5 linked regions of the Homo sapiens genome follow. The protein of the gene in region 3 interacts with the protein of the main gene of each other region in a biochemical or structural test. Each region holds a gene or a part of one and is shown on either strand. Other genes may lie near its edges.

Region 1 (3,520 bases), on a different chromosome or scaffold from region 3:
TCAACTCTCCACTCTTTTATTACAAAGTGATCTATGTCCACGGCAGTCTTCACCTCTTCCACTATTATCAAAGAACAGTCTGTACTCTCCTCTCCAAGACCAACCATTCTGGACTCTGGAACCAGTTTCCTCTCTAGAAGCCTCTCTGTCAGCCTCTCAAGCTTGTATTTCATTATCTTCCTCTCTAATCTCTCCTTCCCCTCAATCTGTAAAGGGACAATGTCCCCAAAATGTACACTTTTCACAAATTCTATGCCTCCGTGCTACATATAAATCATTGTCAGTAATGTACCAGAGTTGGTGGTATATAATTTTTTACCTTAAAAGTAATAACAAGGCTGGGCGCAGTGGCTCATGCCTGTAATCCCAGCACTTTGGGAGGCCAAGGTGGGTGGATCACTTGAGGTCAGGAGTTCGAGACCAGCCTGGCCAACATGGTGAAATCCCATCTCTACTAAAAACATAAAACTTAGCCAGGCATGGTGGCGGGTGTGTGTAATCTCAGCTATTCGGGAGGCTGAGGGAGGAGAATTGCTTAAACCTGGGATCCGGCCTGACAAAGCGAGACTCTGTTCAAGAAAAAATAGTAATAATAACCAGGTAGGCTAATCAATTTTATTTGTTAAAATGTTAAATTTTGTATACATTTCCTGGAACACCATACCTTGGACTAATATAATATAGTATTTTCATTTAATTTATGTCGCTTCAGTTTTACCTATACAACCAAATTAAAACAAGATTGACTAAGAAATGACACAGTGGTCTCTAACACAATACTTTCCAAAGGAATTTTTAAGGATAATTTTGGTTATGTAGGATTTTCATCTTCTATGCTGACATTAGAAGCTAAACACCAGGTAAAACGTAACTCCACTATCAGCCGTTAAAAATTAGAAGAAAAAAAAAATCCTACCTTAACCTCCATCCTCCTCTAGGAAATGCCTCATCTCTTCCTTCATCTATATTTCTCAAGGATAATCTCTATTCACTATCCTCTCTACTTGGTCCTTTCATTTACTCTTTCAACCCACTGAAATCTGGTTTTTGCCCCATCACTCAATTCAAACTGCTCTCCCTAAAGTCACAATGATCTAATTTCCAAACGTAGTGGAAAACTATCTGTGCCTATCCTACTAAACCTATCTGTTGCAACAGACACTAAATATCACTTCCTCATTTCTAGGGAAGGTGGGGAGGCTGTTTGAGACAGTGTCTCATTCTGTTGCCCAGGCTAAAATGCAGTGGCATGATCACCGCTGGCTACAGCCTCAACTTCCTGGGTTCAAGCAGTCCTCCCACCTCGACTTCCCCAAGTTTTGGGATTACAGGTGTGAGCCACTGCACCCTCCCGTGCTCAGCTTCTGTGACACCAATCTCCTTGATGTCTGGGGACCTACCATTTCTTTTGTGCTCCCTCTAGTCTTTCAATGTTGGTGTTCTTCAGGGTCCCCATCTTTGGCCCACTGCTTTTTCTCACTCTATTCTCCCTCTCTCTTTCAAATACTCTGAGTTTCAACTACCACCTACAAGTGACTCCTAAATCAGTCACGACCTAGACCTCTCTCCCAAGCTTCAGATCAATTATGGTTAACTGCCAACCCTTCCTAGGAGAAACTGCCTCACACATTGCCCCTACCGAAAGAAGTGAGACCCAGACTATCCTTGTACCAGCAGGGTATTTTGTATTTTATAATTACCACCATTCCTACAGCTGATTCAACACAGGTTAGCACCTGACTTGAAGGCCACCAATTCACAACATAGTCTGTATTGAAAAGCTCTGCCCAACTAAGAATCATAGCAATTAGCCAGGCCAATCTGTTAAGTCTCTCAGGAATTTGACATAGGAAGGAAAGGATAAGCCAGTCAGTAGGGAAAAAGAAATAAAACAACCAGAAACTAGTGATTGGAGCTGAGTCATTTTAATAGAATAGAATTAAGTCATGACTATTAAGACCAGTTAGAGTCCCCTTAACTCCAAAAGACCTGTTCCTGTTCTTTCTGTAAGGCTTGTTTCTTTGGCTTCTTCTGGTTTCCATGAAGTCAGATCACAGGGCTGAGATTCCCATTTTTACTTATCTCCAACTATACTGTAATACAGTCTCCTTCACAATCATTATTTTATTCATGGTTCACTGCAAGAGCCTAACAGCTAAAGACCCAAACATCATCCTAACAGAGTTGGAAACCCAAACATTTTCTTTGATTTCTCTCACTATCATTCCTCATATCCTCTCAGTATTACTTTTAAATATCTCACAAATATATCTGCCTTTCTCTGGCCTTACCACTGACCCAGCTGAGGTCAATTCTAACATGGTCTACTGCAATAGTCTTCTAAATGAATTTACTATTCCCACTCTTGTAACCTCTTGAATCTATCTTCCAATCAGCTGCGTAATCTGACAAAAATGAAGATATGAGCCAGTCACTTCCCATTTAAAATCCTTTGATGATTCTCCATCTCCTACAGAATAAGATCTAAACTCAACAAAATATTCCATAGGGCTCCTAACTGGGCCAGGTACAGTGGCTCCTGCCTGTAATCCTAGCACTTTGGGAGGCTAAGGCAGGCAGATGGCTTGAGCTCAGGAATTCGAGACCAGCCTGGGCAACATGGCAAAACCCCCTTCTCTACAAAAAAATACAAAAAATTAGCTGGGAATGGTGGCACGTGCCTGTAGTTGCAGCTATTCAGGATGCTGAGGTGGGAGGATCACTTGAGCCCAGGAGGCAGAGGTTGCAGTGAGCCTAGATCGCACCACTGCATTCTAGCCTGGACAATGGAGTCAGACCCTGCCTCAAAAGAGAAAAAAAAAAAAGCCTCCTAATTGATCTTTTCCCAGATGCTCCTTGTCACATACTCTAAATGCCAACCCAAAATTGCTTGTAAAACCAGACACATAAAGTAATTCTCTATGTTTTTGCTTTTCCTTCATTTGCAACACCTAGCCCCTCCCTTTCTCCTATATCCTACTCATCTTTTAAGACTGACCACTAGCCTCGACTCCTCCAAGAAGCTATCCCTGATACCTACACTTCCTTCATTCTTTCCAATGTCAGCCTGGGTTATACGCTCCTCCTATTTTCCACAGTACTCTCTATAATATTTCCCTTACTACTCTATTTTATGTCCTCTGAGCTCTCTGAATTCAATGACAGTATCTTCTCCACCTCTGAGTGTCCAGAACCTAGCACAAAGTAAACATTCACTAAAAGCTCATTAAATAAATGAAGAAATGAACAGTGAAAAACACATATAAATTGTCTAGTCTAGCAGAATATATATCATTAGGCTGGGTGCAGTGGTTCACGCCTATAATCCCAGCACTTTGAGAAGCCAAGGCAGGCGGATCACTTGAGGTCAGGAGTTCCAGACCAGCCTGGCCAACATGGCAAAACCCCATCGCTACTAAATATACAAAAATTAGCCAGGCGTGGTGGCAGGCGCTTGTAATCCCGGCTACTTGGGAGGCTGAGGCTGGAAAGTCACTTGAATCCAGGAGATGGAGGTTGC
Region 2 (3,338 bases), on a different chromosome or scaffold from region 3:
CTTTTCCAGACTGGCCAGTCCTAGAAGAACATCTAGTGGTACAGCTTCTATACTTAGTGACTATGGGTTCTAGCAGGGGATAGACCATCCTTTGTACAGGTTGTACAGATTGAAGTACCATCTGTGGCTTGACTACTTCAAAATCCAGTTCAAGACATGATTTCAGATTGATAAGACAAGTTATAGGATTGGAGTTGAATTGAAAATTTGCATTGAATTTACATTTTTTTTAATTCCTAAGGGGTAGTTTGGTTCATCAGGACTACTTCATTTCAATTAGGTATACTCAGCAGCACTAAGCAAAATCAAAGCCTATAAGGAAATCTATAGTATATATTAAAGGAATAAAAGAAAAACCAAAATTAAAGTACCATGTACTTTTAAAAACTAACTGAGAAGGTAACAACTGATTAAAAAAAAAAAAGCCAATGTATTGAGAAGTTTTCTTGACTGATGGTGATATTGCCATATAAGTGTATATGTTAGAAAAAGATGACCTCAAGTTTTTTGTTACATCTTTTCTGTAGACCTAGGTATTCTCATTCATTCATTCATTATTGTTGAGCACTTGCTATTTGAATACTGATTTTTTACAAATGTCTTTCCACTTCAAGAGCAAGTATAAAGTTAGGTAAAATATCTTTTAATGTGTCATTTTAATTGGTATTCTCAGTATGATGATGCCAAAAATTCATATTTGTTTCTAGAAGGAACCCTAGACTTATAGAATTCCTTATGATATAAAATATAAAGAATTTTTTTCTGAATAAATAGGGCAAATTTGAAATATGGGCCAAAAAATGTACAATAAGTGGTCAGTGGAGGATTCTAACATCAATAATTGAATTACAAAAATATTTTCACATTGCCCTTTTATCCCCAAGTAATGCTCTCCTTCTTAGAAGCCATGTGAATGTCTGAATAGATGCTTCTCTAAAACAAACCAGTTCGATAACAGACATTTTTTAACTTGTTTTATTTTAATATAGTCAACAGCTGCTCAGTATCAGGAAGGATTTACAATAAAGGAATCACAAGTTTAAATAATGATAAGCCCTCTTTTAGTTATTTTTACAAAGACATTAAAAAGACTAAAAGCACAATATTCTTACACATACATGCATATAGACACAAATACAAGAAAAATTGGGGAAATCTGAACAAAATCACTGGATTATGTTAATGTCAATATCCTAGTAGTAATAAGTACCGTAGTTTTGAAAAATGCTACCTTTGGAGGAAACTGGGTAAATGGTCCACAGAATGTCTCTGTATTATTTCCTGCAACTGCATTGGATCTAGAATTAATCTCAACATTAAAAGGTTAATTTTCGTCTAAAAGCACACTATTTCTTAATTGATCATTGCATTTCACATAAACTCCTCCTTTATTGTTTCTTTTCTCTTTTTATTTAGGCATGGAATTTCTTATCTCACTTGCCAGTGATAAATGTTGGCATAAGTGTTAAAGGCTCGTGGGATGACTTAGTTGAAGGACATAATGAACTCTCTGTCTCAACTCTGACTGCAGACAAACGAGATGACAACAAATGGATCAAATTGCATGCTGACCAAGAGTATGTGCTTCAAGTGAGCTTGCAGAGAGTCCACTTTGGGTTCCACAAGGTATAGTGTTTGGTTTCCATTCTCAAATATTTCACACCAAATACCAGCATGCACCACCACACATATCTGTTATGTGACTAATGTGCCCGTGTCATTCATGAATCCTGCTTTCTCAACTGGTCTTAAGCAGCGAGAGTTAGTCTTTTGAAATTCGTGAGTTCTCCTCATGTGTCATTTTTCAGCCCCAGAAAATCTACCTTACATAAGAATATATTGCCTAGAGTACTATTCTCAAAGTATGGTATACAGACTCTGGCCAGCAGAATTTCCTGGAGTGCCTTTTAAAGTGCAGATTCCTTGGCCCCACTCCAGACTGGCTGAATCAGAACCTCAAGGAGGCGGGAATCTCAAAATCTATACCTTCACTCAGTGCCCCACATGATTTTTAAGGGCCTTAAAGCTTGAGCAGTACTGGCCTAGAGGCACTTTGGTATACAGGAACCACATTGGGCTAGATGTAGATGAGACTGAAGCTTTACCACTTAGCTCTATGAATTTGAATAAGACATTAAGCTTTTCTGAGCCTCAGTTGCCACATTTGCCTGCGTCCTTCATTATAATGCATAGGAGAGCTTTGTCAATGTTCATACAGGCAAAAATGTACAGTATTTTTATTTTAGATTACTATGCTCTTTTCTGTTGCCTCTGATTATCTGGTCCTCTAAGAATATTAGTACACAGCAGGTGGGCAGATTGGTTTTTAGTGCCATAATAATTAAAATAAGAAAGAATTAGTCTTCTTTTTGGTCCAGTGGATTCAGGGCTTTCCCATATCTAGAATAAGCCCTCAGGGGTGAAGCTGTAGTTCATAAGTATTGTCCCTTCTGTTCTCACACACAAAATGATCAGTAACTTTCTATTCTTAAGATGTTCTTTCAGTATTGTACCTTCAAGTCTCACCTCATTTGATTTCTAATTCTAAAAAAGTCTGTCAGTGTAAGTATTAACTGATTGGCCTCTGGCATTTCAGAGGCTTTAGTATGAGCTTTTTTTTTTGATACGAAGTCTCACTGTGTCGCCCAGACTTGGCTCACTGCAACCTCCACCTCCTGGGTTCAAGCATTTCTCCTGCTTCAGCCTCCCAAATAGCTGGGTTTTACAGGCATGTGCCACTACACTCAACTAATTTTTTGTATTTTTAGTAGAGATAGGGTTTCACCATGTTGACCAGCTCATCTTGAACTCCTGACCTCAAATGATCCACCTGCCTCTGCCTCCCAAAGTTCTGGGATTACCAGCATGAGCCACCACACCTGACCTTAATATGAGGTTTCATTTGTTTGTTTGTTTGAGATGGAATTTCACTTATGTTATCCAGGCTGGAGTACAAGGGTGCAACATCAGCTCCCTGCAACCTCCGCCTCCCGGGTTTAAGCAATTCTCCTTCCTCAGCATCCCGAGTAACTGGGATTACAGGTGCCTGCCACCATACCCAGCTAATTTTTTGTATTATGTTGGCCAGGCTGGTCTCAAACTCCTGACCTCAGGTGATCCACCTGCCTTGGCCTCCCAAAGTGTTGGGATTACAGGCGTGACCCACTGCACCTGGCAATATGAGCATTTTTTAGATGACTTAATGTATTCCAACTTATAAAAAAAAGTAATAATTACAAACTAATAATAGTAATAATAAAAATAGCAACAATCATAAAGATAAAATCATGGGGGAAAACTATGATTTTTTTACCTTAATATTCTACTTAAAGCTTAGA
Region 3 (3,520 bases):
TGTCAAGAATTAGAGATATAACAAAAACACTCAGCAGTAAAATTATACTGAATAAAATTTAAAGTTGTCTAATTTGGCACTATTATCCAATTATTCTACTGCTAAGGCACAGATATGCTATTTTGGGGACTTCTTCATGATAGGATATTAAATAAAACATGCTAAAATGTATGAATATAGATAAATGACATTCAAGGTATAACCAGCTAACCTTAAAAATCACACATTGTAAATAATCTTGATTAAAATAGATTTGCCAGTTAATATCTTAATTTACAAAGCATTGAGTTTGGGCCATCTTTTGTTTTAAAAGAACATATACTATGGTTAAGGAACAATGATTTTTTCATCAACTGAAAATGCTGACTATTCCTCATGAGGGGAAAACAAAACTATTTAATAGCTGACCAGACAGCTAGGTCTTACATCATGCCTTGAAAACTTCCTAAAGACTACAACTCTGCTACAACAAGTACGAGAAACAGTATACATTTAGTTGATAGAAATATACACCTGGGGTCCAATGACAGACCCTTACAAAAAGCACTTCCAGTATGTTGGGTTCTGTTAAAACCAGATGAAACCTCATTTCTAACCACTGTCCTTCCAATCCACTCATAAACATCTCATTTACTGGCTACGGGGAATCAGATTCATAACTATAGTAGTAGTAGGCGTCTCAGTGAAGCAGAGGTTATCATAGAGACTGTCTACATGAACAGTCATTGGAGAAGCTCCTGTAAAGCTAAGTTTCTAAAATCTTGGTTGTGGCAGCTTCTGGAAAAGAAAGGTCAGGTAAGGATTTGGTCCGTTTCATCTGTGCTCTGCCATCATTAGCAATTTACATAGTTACACCAGAATCTGTTTTACATAGAATTTGAGCAAAGGAGAGACTGCAGCTGAGTGAGTGACTTCCTCCAAAGGTATAGTAATAGCTCATGGAATAGGAATATCTTGCAAAACAGAAGAGTAGTCCAGGTTATCCCACTGGGGCAAAGCAGTCACCTTTTGGTGAGAGATGCCAGGCCCAAACGAGGGAAGTTCTGGTGATGGAAAGAATGGCAACAGGGCAGCTGCTGATAACCAAAGAAGATATTCTTGAGAATAAATCAAAGGATCTAAGAAAGAACATTAGTCAAAAGAACAAGGGATTTGATACAATGCAATCCTAACTCTCCAGGCCTTCATGATGATTTAAGCTAATTACGAGAGAGACACACACACAGAGAGATTACACATAAACATACTTAAAAAAAAATCAAAGAGGTATCCTACCCATGTAAACCTTGCTGGATGAAACCTTTCCACTTTTAATTAACTGGCCACCATAAGAATGAATGGCATGCCCAGTATTACACTTTTTCTTCCTTTCATTCTTATTTACACACAAGCAGAAATCATGTACTTTTTATTTCTTTCAAGAAATCAGCAAAAAAATTCTTAATGCCATAAATAGAGTTGAAATGCTTTTTAAAAACATTTAATACCAGCTACATTATAATTTTGATATGTATGGATACAAATAAAACATTATGAAAATGAAGTAGATCAGTTTCCATTTCATTAAAGTATAGAACATTTTGGCCAAAAGGAATTTCAAGAAGCATCTAGTGTAGGGAAGTGACTTGCCTAAAGTCACACAGCTAGTTCATTTGCTGAAGTCTTATAAGTAAATTGCTGCATTGCCCATCCAGTGCTTGCTCCACTACACCTTGTAGCCTCCTCGTTCCTATCTTCCAGTTTGAAATTTTAAGGAGGCATAACCGCATCACACTAACTAAACTGAACATTTATGAGAAGACACAAATAGTTTGTATTTTGAATAACAGTAAAGAGAAAAATAGGGTAAACATTTAAACAAAGAACTTCATGAAATGCTTAGATTTCCTTGATAAATGACATAAAAGGAACAATAAAGGCAAGAGTTATAGACACAGATTTTTGTCTGGAAAAAACCAAAATGCTAGAAAGGATCAAATGGATTAACAGGCTATGTACAGGATTGCCTAAACTGAGTGTAAGGGTTTAAGAGAAGAATAAAGGGAAGTATAAAATTTTATTGAAAACTGGTATATTGGTACTTAAATTTATAAAGACTTCCATTTTTAAAAAAATTATAAGCCAAACAACGTATTTTCTCTATTACCTTTGACAAGTCATACAGTGTTTTGCACAGGCTAGAATGAGTCCTAACTGCTGAAAGATCTACTATAAAGTTTGTATATTTTAGTACAAAAGGATTAGAAGTTAAAGTTCTTTCTGTTCTCACCTTTAAATAGTTCAGGTGATAATCCAAAAGAACAGTGGCATTAGCGATGCTGTCCTTTGTTCCCACAAAAACAAATGGTACCATACCCTGAAAAAGAAATTGCAACAATGATCCTATAAAAGTAATGATAGATTAATCTGAAAAATGCAAATAACGACTAATTCCCTAGCACAGGATCTGGTGAACAGCAGGTATACAAATGTTTGCTGTAAATATAAATCAATATATGAAAACAAAAGTAGTTGATATACTACTTTACACATCTACTGTGAATACGAATAGATCAATAGCAACCTTTTAAACGTATCAGATTATTATAAAGACTAGTATTCAGTATCAGCAAAATCACAAAATGTATAATTCAAAATTATACAAGCTTTACCATGAGATGTATAAACAAAATGAGTAGTATAAGATGCTCTAATTCATTTATGAAAGGCTTTATCCTGATCAAAATTTTTTCTTTTTTTTTTTTCTTTTTTGTTTTTTTTTTTTTTTTTTTGAGACGGAGTCTCGCTCTGTCGCCCAGGCTGGAGTGCAGTGGCGGGATCTCGGCTCACTGCAAGCTCCACCTCCCGGGTTCACGCCATTCTCCTGCCTCAGCCTCCCAAGTAGCTGGGACTACAGGCACCCGCCACTACGCCCGGCTAATGTTTTGTTTTTTTAGTAGAGACAGGGTTTCACTGTTTTAGCTGGGATGGTCTCGATCTCCTGACCTCGTGATCCGCCCGCCTCCGCCTCTTTTTTTTTTTTTTTTTTTGAGACAGGGTCTTTTTATTCTGTTATCCAGGCTGGAGTGCAGTGGCATGATAATGGCTCGCTGTAGCCTCGACCTCCCCAGGCCCTAGGTGTTCCTCCCACCTCAGCCTCCTGGATAGCTGGGACAACACGTGCATGCCATCATACCCAGCTAAATTTTTGTACTTTCTGTAGAGACGGGGTTTCGCCACATTGCCCAGGCTGGTCTCGAATTCCTGGGCTCAGGCGATCTGCCTGCCTTGGCCTCCCAAAGTGTCGGGACTACAGGCATGAGCCATCGCGCCTGGCCGATCAAATTCTTAAAAAAAAAATCAAAATGAAATACCAAGGGTACAAAAGTAAAAAGTAAATCATTTCTGCTAACCAAGTAAATAGAGTACACACAAAATACAAACAAAAACATCAGGATAAAAATGCACTGAATAATCTGTGAGACAAAAAAATAGGTACATTGACAAGCATTAAGTTTTATCAAGCCCATACACATTTCAA
Region 4 (3,520 bases), on a different chromosome or scaffold from region 3:
CAGATCTTTTACAATTGAGTTGTTTGAATTCTTTGTATATTTTCATTATTAATCCCTTATTAGTTATATGGTTTGCAGATATTTTCCTGCATTCTGTAGATTGTCACTTTGTTGATTGATTCCTTTGCTGTGCAGAACATTTTTAGTTTGATGTAATCCCATTTGTCTATTTTTTCTTTTGTGGCCTTTGCTTTTGAGGCTTTATTTCCTCAAAATAAGCCAGGCACAGAAAGACAAGTACTGCACGATCTCACTCACATGTGGAATCTGAAAACGCTGATGCCACAGAAGAACAGAGCAGAATGGTGGTTACCAGAGGCTGGGGTGGCTGGCGGAAGGGGAGAGAGGAAGATGTTGGTCAAAGGATACACATTTACAGTTAGATACAAGGGGGAAAGTCCAGAATAGGCAAATATACAGAGACAGAGAGTAGACAGGTGATTGCCTGGGGCCAGAAAGCAGGGGAGAGAGGATCAGTGAAGAACGGGTAGAAAAAGTGAGAATAACTGCTAATGGTTAGGGAGTTTCTTCTCCCTTTTTTTTTTTTTTTTTTTTTTTTGACAAGGTCTCGTTCTGTCACCCAGGCTGGAATGCAGTGGGGCAATCATGGCTTACTGCAGCCTTGCCCTTTTGGGCTTAAGCAATTCTCCCACCTCAGCCTCTCCAGTACCTGGCACTACAGGTGTGCACCATCATGCCTGGCTAAATTTTGGTTGGTTGTTGTTTTGTTTTTTTGAGACGGAGTCTCACTCTGTCGCCCAGGTTGGAGAGCAGTGGCGCGATCTTGGCTCACTGCAACCTCTGTCTCCCAGGTTCAAACGATTCTCCTGTCTCAGCCTCCTGAGTAGCTGGGATTACAGGTGTGCACCACCATGCCCGGCTAATTTTTGTATTTTTAGTGGAGGCAGGGTTTCACCATGTTGGCCAGGCTAGTCTCAAACTCCTTACCTCAAGTGATCCTCCTGCCTCAGCCTCCCAAAGTGTTGGGATTACAGGTGTGAGCCACCGCCTAATTTTTGTGTTTTTTTGTAGAAATAAGGTTTCACCATGTTGCTCAGACTGGTCTCAAACTCCTGAGCTCAGGTGATCCCCCTGCCTGGGCTTCGCAGGGATTATAGGCTAAGCCACCGCACCTGGCCACATTTAAGTCTTTAATTCATTTCGGGTTGATTTTTGTCTATGTTGAGAAGCCAAGGTCTGATATTATTTTTCTGTATGTGTGTATCTAGTTTTCTCAACACCGTTTATTGAAGAACCTATCCTTTTCTCATTGTGTGTTCTTGGCACCTTTGTTAAAAATCAGTTGGCTGCAAATGCATGCATTTATTTCCAGGCTCTATTCTGTTCCATTGGTTTATGTGTCTGTGTTTATGACAATAGTGTGCTGTTTGGGTTACTATATCTCTGTAGTTTTTTTTGTTTTGTTTTGTTTTTGAGACGGAGTCTCACTCTGTCACCCAGGCTGGAGTGCAATGGCGCAATCTTGGATCACTGCAACCTCCGCCTCCCGGGTTCAAGCGATTCTCCTGCCTCAGCCTCCTGAGTAGCTGGGGATTACAGGCGTGCGCCACCACACCCAGCTAATTTTTTTGTTTTTAGCAGAGACGGTGTTTCACCATGTTGGCCAGGCTGGTCTCGAACTCCTGCCCTCAGGTGATCCGCCCACCTCAGCCTCCCAAAGTGCTGGGATTACAGGCGGGAGCCACCATGCCCAGCCTCTGTAGTATATTCTGAAGTCAGGTAGTGTGATGCCTCCAGCCTTGTTCTTTTGCTCAGGATAGCTTTTGCTATTCCAAGTCTTTTGTGGTTCCACACAAATTTTAGGATTTCTTTTTCTATTTGCATGAAGAATATGGTAGGTATTTTGATAGAGACTGCATTGAATCTGTAGATTGCATTGAATCTGTAGATTGCTTTGAATCTGTAGATTGCATTGAACCTGTAGATTGCATTGAATTTGTAGATTGCTTTGGGTACTATCTATTGTTTATTTATTTTTTGAGATGAGTTACCTAGGCTGTTACCCAGGCTGGAGTTCAGTGGTGCAGTCATGGCTCACTGCAGCTTTGATATCCTGGGCTCAAGCGATCCTCCCACTTCAGCCTCCTGAGTGTCTGGGACTACAGGTGTGAGCCACCACGTGCAGCTACTTTTTATTTTATTTCTTTTCTTTTTCTTTTTTCTTTTTTTTTTTGAGACAGAGTTTTGGTCTTGTTGCTCAGGCTAGAGTGCAATGGCGCAATCTTGGCTCACCGCAACCTCTGCCTCCCGTGTTCAAGCAGTTCTCCTGCCTCAGCCTCAAGCTACTCAAGCTGGGATTACAGGCGCCCACTACCACGCCTGGCTAATTTTGTATTTTTAGCAGAGATAGGGTTTCTGCATGGTGGTCAGGCTGGTCTGGAACTCCTGACCTCAAGCGATCTGCCTGCCTTGGCCTCCCAAAGTGCTGGGATTACAGGCATGAGCCATCACGCCCAGCCTTATTTTATTTTTTAGTAGAGACAAGGTCTAGCTGTGTTGCCCAGGCTAGTCTTGAACTCTTGAGCTCAAGTGATCCTCCCACCTCATCCTCACAAAGTGTTGGGATTACAGATGTGAGCAACAGCACCTGGTCTATTAATTCTGTTGTTGCCAGTGTTTTTGGTGTCATATCCAAGAAATCATTGCCAAATCTGATGTCATGAAGCATTTCTCCTGTTTTCTTCTAAGAGTTTTATAGTTTTAGATCCGATGTTTAGGCGTTGATCTGTTTTGAATTAACTTTTCTTTTTTGTGTGTGTGTTTGGTTTTTTTTCGAGACAGATCCTTGCTCTGTCGCCCAGGCTGGAGTGCGGTGGCGCAATCTCGGCTCACTGCAAGCTCCGCCTCCCGGGTTCAAGCGATTCTCCTGCCTCAGCCTCTCTAGGAGCTGGGATTACAGGCCCCCGCCACCACACCCAGCTAATTTTTTGTATTTTTAGTAGAGACGGGATTTCACCGTGTTAGCCAGGATGGTCTCGATCTCTTGACCTTGTGATCTGCCCGACTCGGCCTCCCAAAGTGCTGGGATTACAGGAGTGAGCCACCACGCCAGGCCAAATTAACTTTTCTGTATATTATATAAGGTAATGGTCCAACATAATTCATGTATGTGTGGATATTCAGTTTTCCTAACACAATTTGTTGAAAAGACTATTCTTTTTCCATTGAATGATCTTGACATCATTGTTGAAAATTGTTTGGCCACATATGTGAAGGTTTATGTCTGGGTTCTTTGTTCTGTTTAATTGGCCAGTATGCCTTTCTTTATGCCAGTGCCACACTGTTTCAATTACTGTAGCTTTATGGTAAGTTTTGAAATAAAAAGGAGTGAAGTCTCCAACTTTGTTCATCTTTTTCAAGATTGCTTTGGCTATTCTGGGTCCTTGGAGATTCCTATGAATTTTAAAATGGGTTATTTTTGCAAAAACAAAGTGCTGTTGGAATTTTCAAAGGGATTGCATTGAGTCTTTAGAAGGCTTTGGATTGTATTGTCATCTTA
Region 5 (3,520 bases), on a different chromosome or scaffold from region 3:
AACCTGAGTTCTGATGAAGCCACCAACCCTATTTCCAGGGTCCTCAATGGCAACCAGCAAGTTGTAGACACTAGCCTGAAGCAGACTGTAAAGGCCAACACCTTTGGGAAAGCAGGAATTAAAACCAAGAATTTCATTCAGAAAAACAGTATGGACAAAAAGAATGGGAAGTCTTATGAAAATAAATCTGGAGAGAATCAGTCTGTAGATAAGTCTGATACTATACCAATTCCAAATGGTGTGGTAACAAATAATTCTGGTTATATTACTAATGGTTATATGGGTAAAGGAGCAGATAATGATGGTAGTGGATCTGAGAGCGGATATACAACTCCTAAAAAAAGGAAAGCTAGGCGCAATAGTGCCAAGGGTTGTGAAAACCTTAATATAGTGCAGGACAAAATAATGCAACAAGAGACCAGTGTCCCAACCTTAAAACAGGGACTTGAAACTTTCAAGCCTGACTATAGTGAACAAAAGGGAAATCGAGTAGATGGTTCGAAGCCCATTTGGAAGTATGAAACTGGGCCTGGAGGAACAAGTCGAGGAAAACCTGCTGTGGGTGATATGCTTCGGAAAAGCTCAGATAGTAAACCTGGTGTGAGCAGCAAAAAGTTTGATGATCGGCCCAAAGGAAAGCATGCTTCAGCTGTTGCCTCCAAAGAGGACTCGTGGACCCTATTTAAACCACCCCCAGTTTTTCCAGTGGACAATAGCAGTGCTAAAATAGTTCCTAAAATAAGTTATGCAAGCAAAGTTAAGGAAAACCTCAACAAAACTATACAGAACTCTTCTGTGTCACCAACTTCATCTTCATCATCTTCATCATCTACCGGGGAAACTCAGACCCAATCATCAAGTCGCTTATCCCAGGTCCCTATGTCAGCGCTGAAATCTGTTACTTCTGCCAACTTTTCTAATGGGCCTGTTTTAGCAGGGACTGATGGAAATGTTTATCCTCCAGGGGGTCAGCCACTGCTAACTACTGCTGCTAATACTCTAACACCCATCTCTTCTGGGACAGATTCAGTTCTCCAGGACATGAGTCTAACTTCAGCAGCTGTTGAACAAATTAAGACTAGCCTTTTTATCTATCCTTCAAATATGCAAACTATGCTGTTGAGCACAGCACAAGTGGATCTGCCCTCTCAGACAGATCAGCAAAACCTGGGGGATATCTTCCAGAATCAGTGGGGTTTATCATTTATAAATGAGCCCAGTGCTGGCCCTGAGACTGTTACTGGGAAGTCATCAGAGCATAAAGTGATGGAGGTGACATTTCAAGGAGAATATCCTGCTACTTTGGTTTCACAGGGTGCTGAAATAATTCCCTCAGGAACTGAGCATCCTGTGTTTCCCAAGGCTTACGAGCTGGAGAAACGGACTAGTCCTCAAGTTCTGGGTAGCATTCTAAAATCTGGGACTACTAGTGAGAGTGGAGCCTTATCCTTGGAACCCAGTCATATAGGTGACCTGCAGAAAGCAGACACCAGTAGTCAAGGTGCTTTAGTGTTTCTCTCAAAGGACTACGAGATAGAAAGTCAAAATCCTCTGGCCTCTCCTACGAACACTTTGTTAGGCTCTGCCAAAGAACAGAGATACCAGAGAGGCCTAGAAAGGAATGATAGCTGGGGTTCTTTTGACCTGAGGGCTGCTATTGTATATCACACTAAAGGTAACTCATTTGTTTCCTATACAAAGATTTTTATTGGCCAATTTAGTATATTGTTTATATTAAGAGAATTTTAAGAGAATTAGTTGTTCATATTAAGAGTATTTTAAGAGAATGACAATGTGGATAAGCAGCTGGTGTCAAACTAATTCAGGGTCCTTGGAACTAGTATGATTAAAATTTAGAAGAAATGTTCACTTTTCCAACTTAAAAGGATTTTTAAAAATACAAACATAATTGACCTACCTGGTTCAAAGAACAGAAGTGAGGAGAACTTGCTTAAAGGTATTGATGTTATATTTTCTCTTGACTGAGTGCTTGAAAAAAAATTTTATTGAACATATGTTCTCCTTCCGTGGCTTTTTTGTCTTTGCTTTTTTGTTTTGTTTTGTGTTTTTTTTCTTTGAGATGGAGTCTCACTCTCTTGCCAGGCTGGAGTGCAGTGGCGTAATCCCGGCCCACTGCAACCTCCACCTCCCAGGTTCAAGTGATTCTCCTGCCTCAGCCTCCTGAGTAGCTGAGATTACAGGCACGCACCACCATGCCCGGCTAATTTTTGTATTTTTAGTAGAGACGGGGTTTCACCATGTTGGCCAGGATGGTCTTGACCTCTTGACCTTGTGATCCACCCACGGCCTCCCAAAGTGCTGGGATTACAGGTGTGAGCCACCACACCCATTTGCTTATTTGTTTTTGAGACAGAGTCTCACTCTCTCACCCAGGCTGGAGTGCAGTGGTGTGATCTTGGCTCACTGCAACCTCCGCCTCTTGGGTTCAGGTGATTCTCCTGCCTCAGCCTCCCGAGTAGCTGGGATTACAGCCATGCGCCACCACGCCCAGCTAATTTTTGTATTTTCAGTAGACACGGGTTTCCCCGTGTTGGCCAGGCTGATCTCAAACTTCTGACCTCGTGATCCGCCCGCCTCTGCTTCCCAAAGTGCTGTGATTACAGGTGTGAGCCACCGTGCCCAGCCTCTCCTTTGCTTTTTATATCATATGCGTCTTTAATAGTGAGCTCATTTAATAGTTCTAATTTGATTAAAATGAGTAGAAGCACTGTTTTTGAAGAGGAGACTGATAAGTCTTGGAGTAATGGATGCCAGTTTGTAACTGGAAAATAAGTTAGACAAATCACAGTGTCAAGTATGATTAGCATAGTTGAGACCAGGCTCTTGGGATTCTCCTTTTCATAGCCCTAAAGCCCAAGTTTAAAGGGAACCAGGTATCTTTCAAGTTTCACGCTAATAACTTTCTTTTCTTTTTTTTCTTTTTTTTTTTTTTTTTTTTTGAGATGGAGTCTTACTCTTGTCACCCAGGCTGGAGTGCAGTGGCGCAATCTTGACTCACTGCAACCTCCGCCTCCCGGGTTCAAGTGATTCTCCTGCCTCAGCCTCCCACGTAGCTGGGATTACAGGTGCCCACCACCACGCCTGGCTAATTTTTATATTTTTAGTAGAGATGAGGTTTCACCGTGTTGGCCAGGCTGGTCTCAAACTCCTGACCTCAGGTGATCCACCCACCTGGGTCTCCCAAAGTGCTGGGATTACAGGTGTGAGCCACCGTGCCAGGCCTCATGTTAATCACTTTCTTAGAATGTGGTTTGTTTGTGTCTTAAAGAAAAATTCGCTGTATGGCATAACTGTAATCTAAATCCTTAGAGCAAATAATGAGGTTTAACGATGATGTTTATATCCTTTTGCTTTTGAGAACAGTGGGTTTCAGTCTTCCCATCTTTCCTACCTCTTCCTCCTTTCTCTAACAGAAATGTATGCTCCATGCATGCATGTACACACTTAATACATAGTGCACATTCCCATTTTAACAGTGGCTCATTTAGGCAGTGACTTA

The links.
Region 1: the proteins of FMR1 (region 3) and RANBP9 form a complex in vitro, tested with the Homo sapiens proteins (one study listed by BioGRID).
Region 2: the proteins of FMR1 (region 3) and ASCC3 form a complex in vitro, tested with the Homo sapiens proteins (one study listed by BioGRID).
Region 4: the proteins of FMR1 (region 3) and CYFIP1 form a complex in vitro, tested with the Homo sapiens proteins (one study listed by BioGRID and IntAct).
Region 5: the proteins of FMR1 (region 3) and NUFIP2 form a complex in vitro, tested with the Homo sapiens proteins (2 studies listed by BioGRID and IntAct, with this or other methods).

The regions. Positions count from the first base shown.
Region 1 is NC_000006.12:13,701,825-13,705,344, forward strand, and holds part of RANBP9 (ran-binding protein 9), read right to left. Parts: intron 1-3,520. UniProt on the Homo sapiens protein: May act as scaffolding protein, and as adapter protein to couple membrane receptors to intracellular signaling pathways. Acts as a mediator of cell spreading and actin cytoskeleton rearrangement.
Region 2 is NC_000006.12:100,510,997-100,514,334, reverse strand, and holds part of ASCC3 (activating signal cointegrator 1 complex subunit 3), read left to right. Parts: intron 1-1,416; coding exon 1,417-1,626; intron 1,627-3,338. UniProt on the Homo sapiens protein: ATPase involved both in DNA repair and rescue of stalled ribosomes. 3'-5' DNA helicase involved in repair of alkylated DNA: promotes DNA unwinding to generate single-stranded substrate needed for ALKBH3, enabling ALKBH3 to process alkylated N3-methylcytosine (3mC) within double-stranded regions.
Region 3 is NC_000023.11:147,939,412-147,942,931, reverse strand, and holds part of FMR1 (fragile X messenger ribonucleoprotein 1), read right to left. Parts: intron 2,357-3,520; coding exon 2,270-2,356; intron 1-2,269.
Region 4 is NC_000015.10:22,970,351-22,973,870, reverse strand, and holds part of CYFIP1 (cytoplasmic FMR1-interacting protein 1), read left to right. Parts: intron 1-3,520. UniProt on the Homo sapiens protein: Component of the CYFIP1-EIF4E-FMR1 complex which binds to the mRNA cap and mediates translational repression. In the CYFIP1-EIF4E-FMR1 complex this subunit is an adapter between EIF4E and FMR1.
Region 5 is NC_000017.11:29,284,147-29,287,666, reverse strand, and holds part of NUFIP2 (FMR1-interacting protein NUFIP2), read left to right. Parts: coding exon 1-1,675; intron 1,676-3,520. UniProt on the Homo sapiens protein: Binds RNA.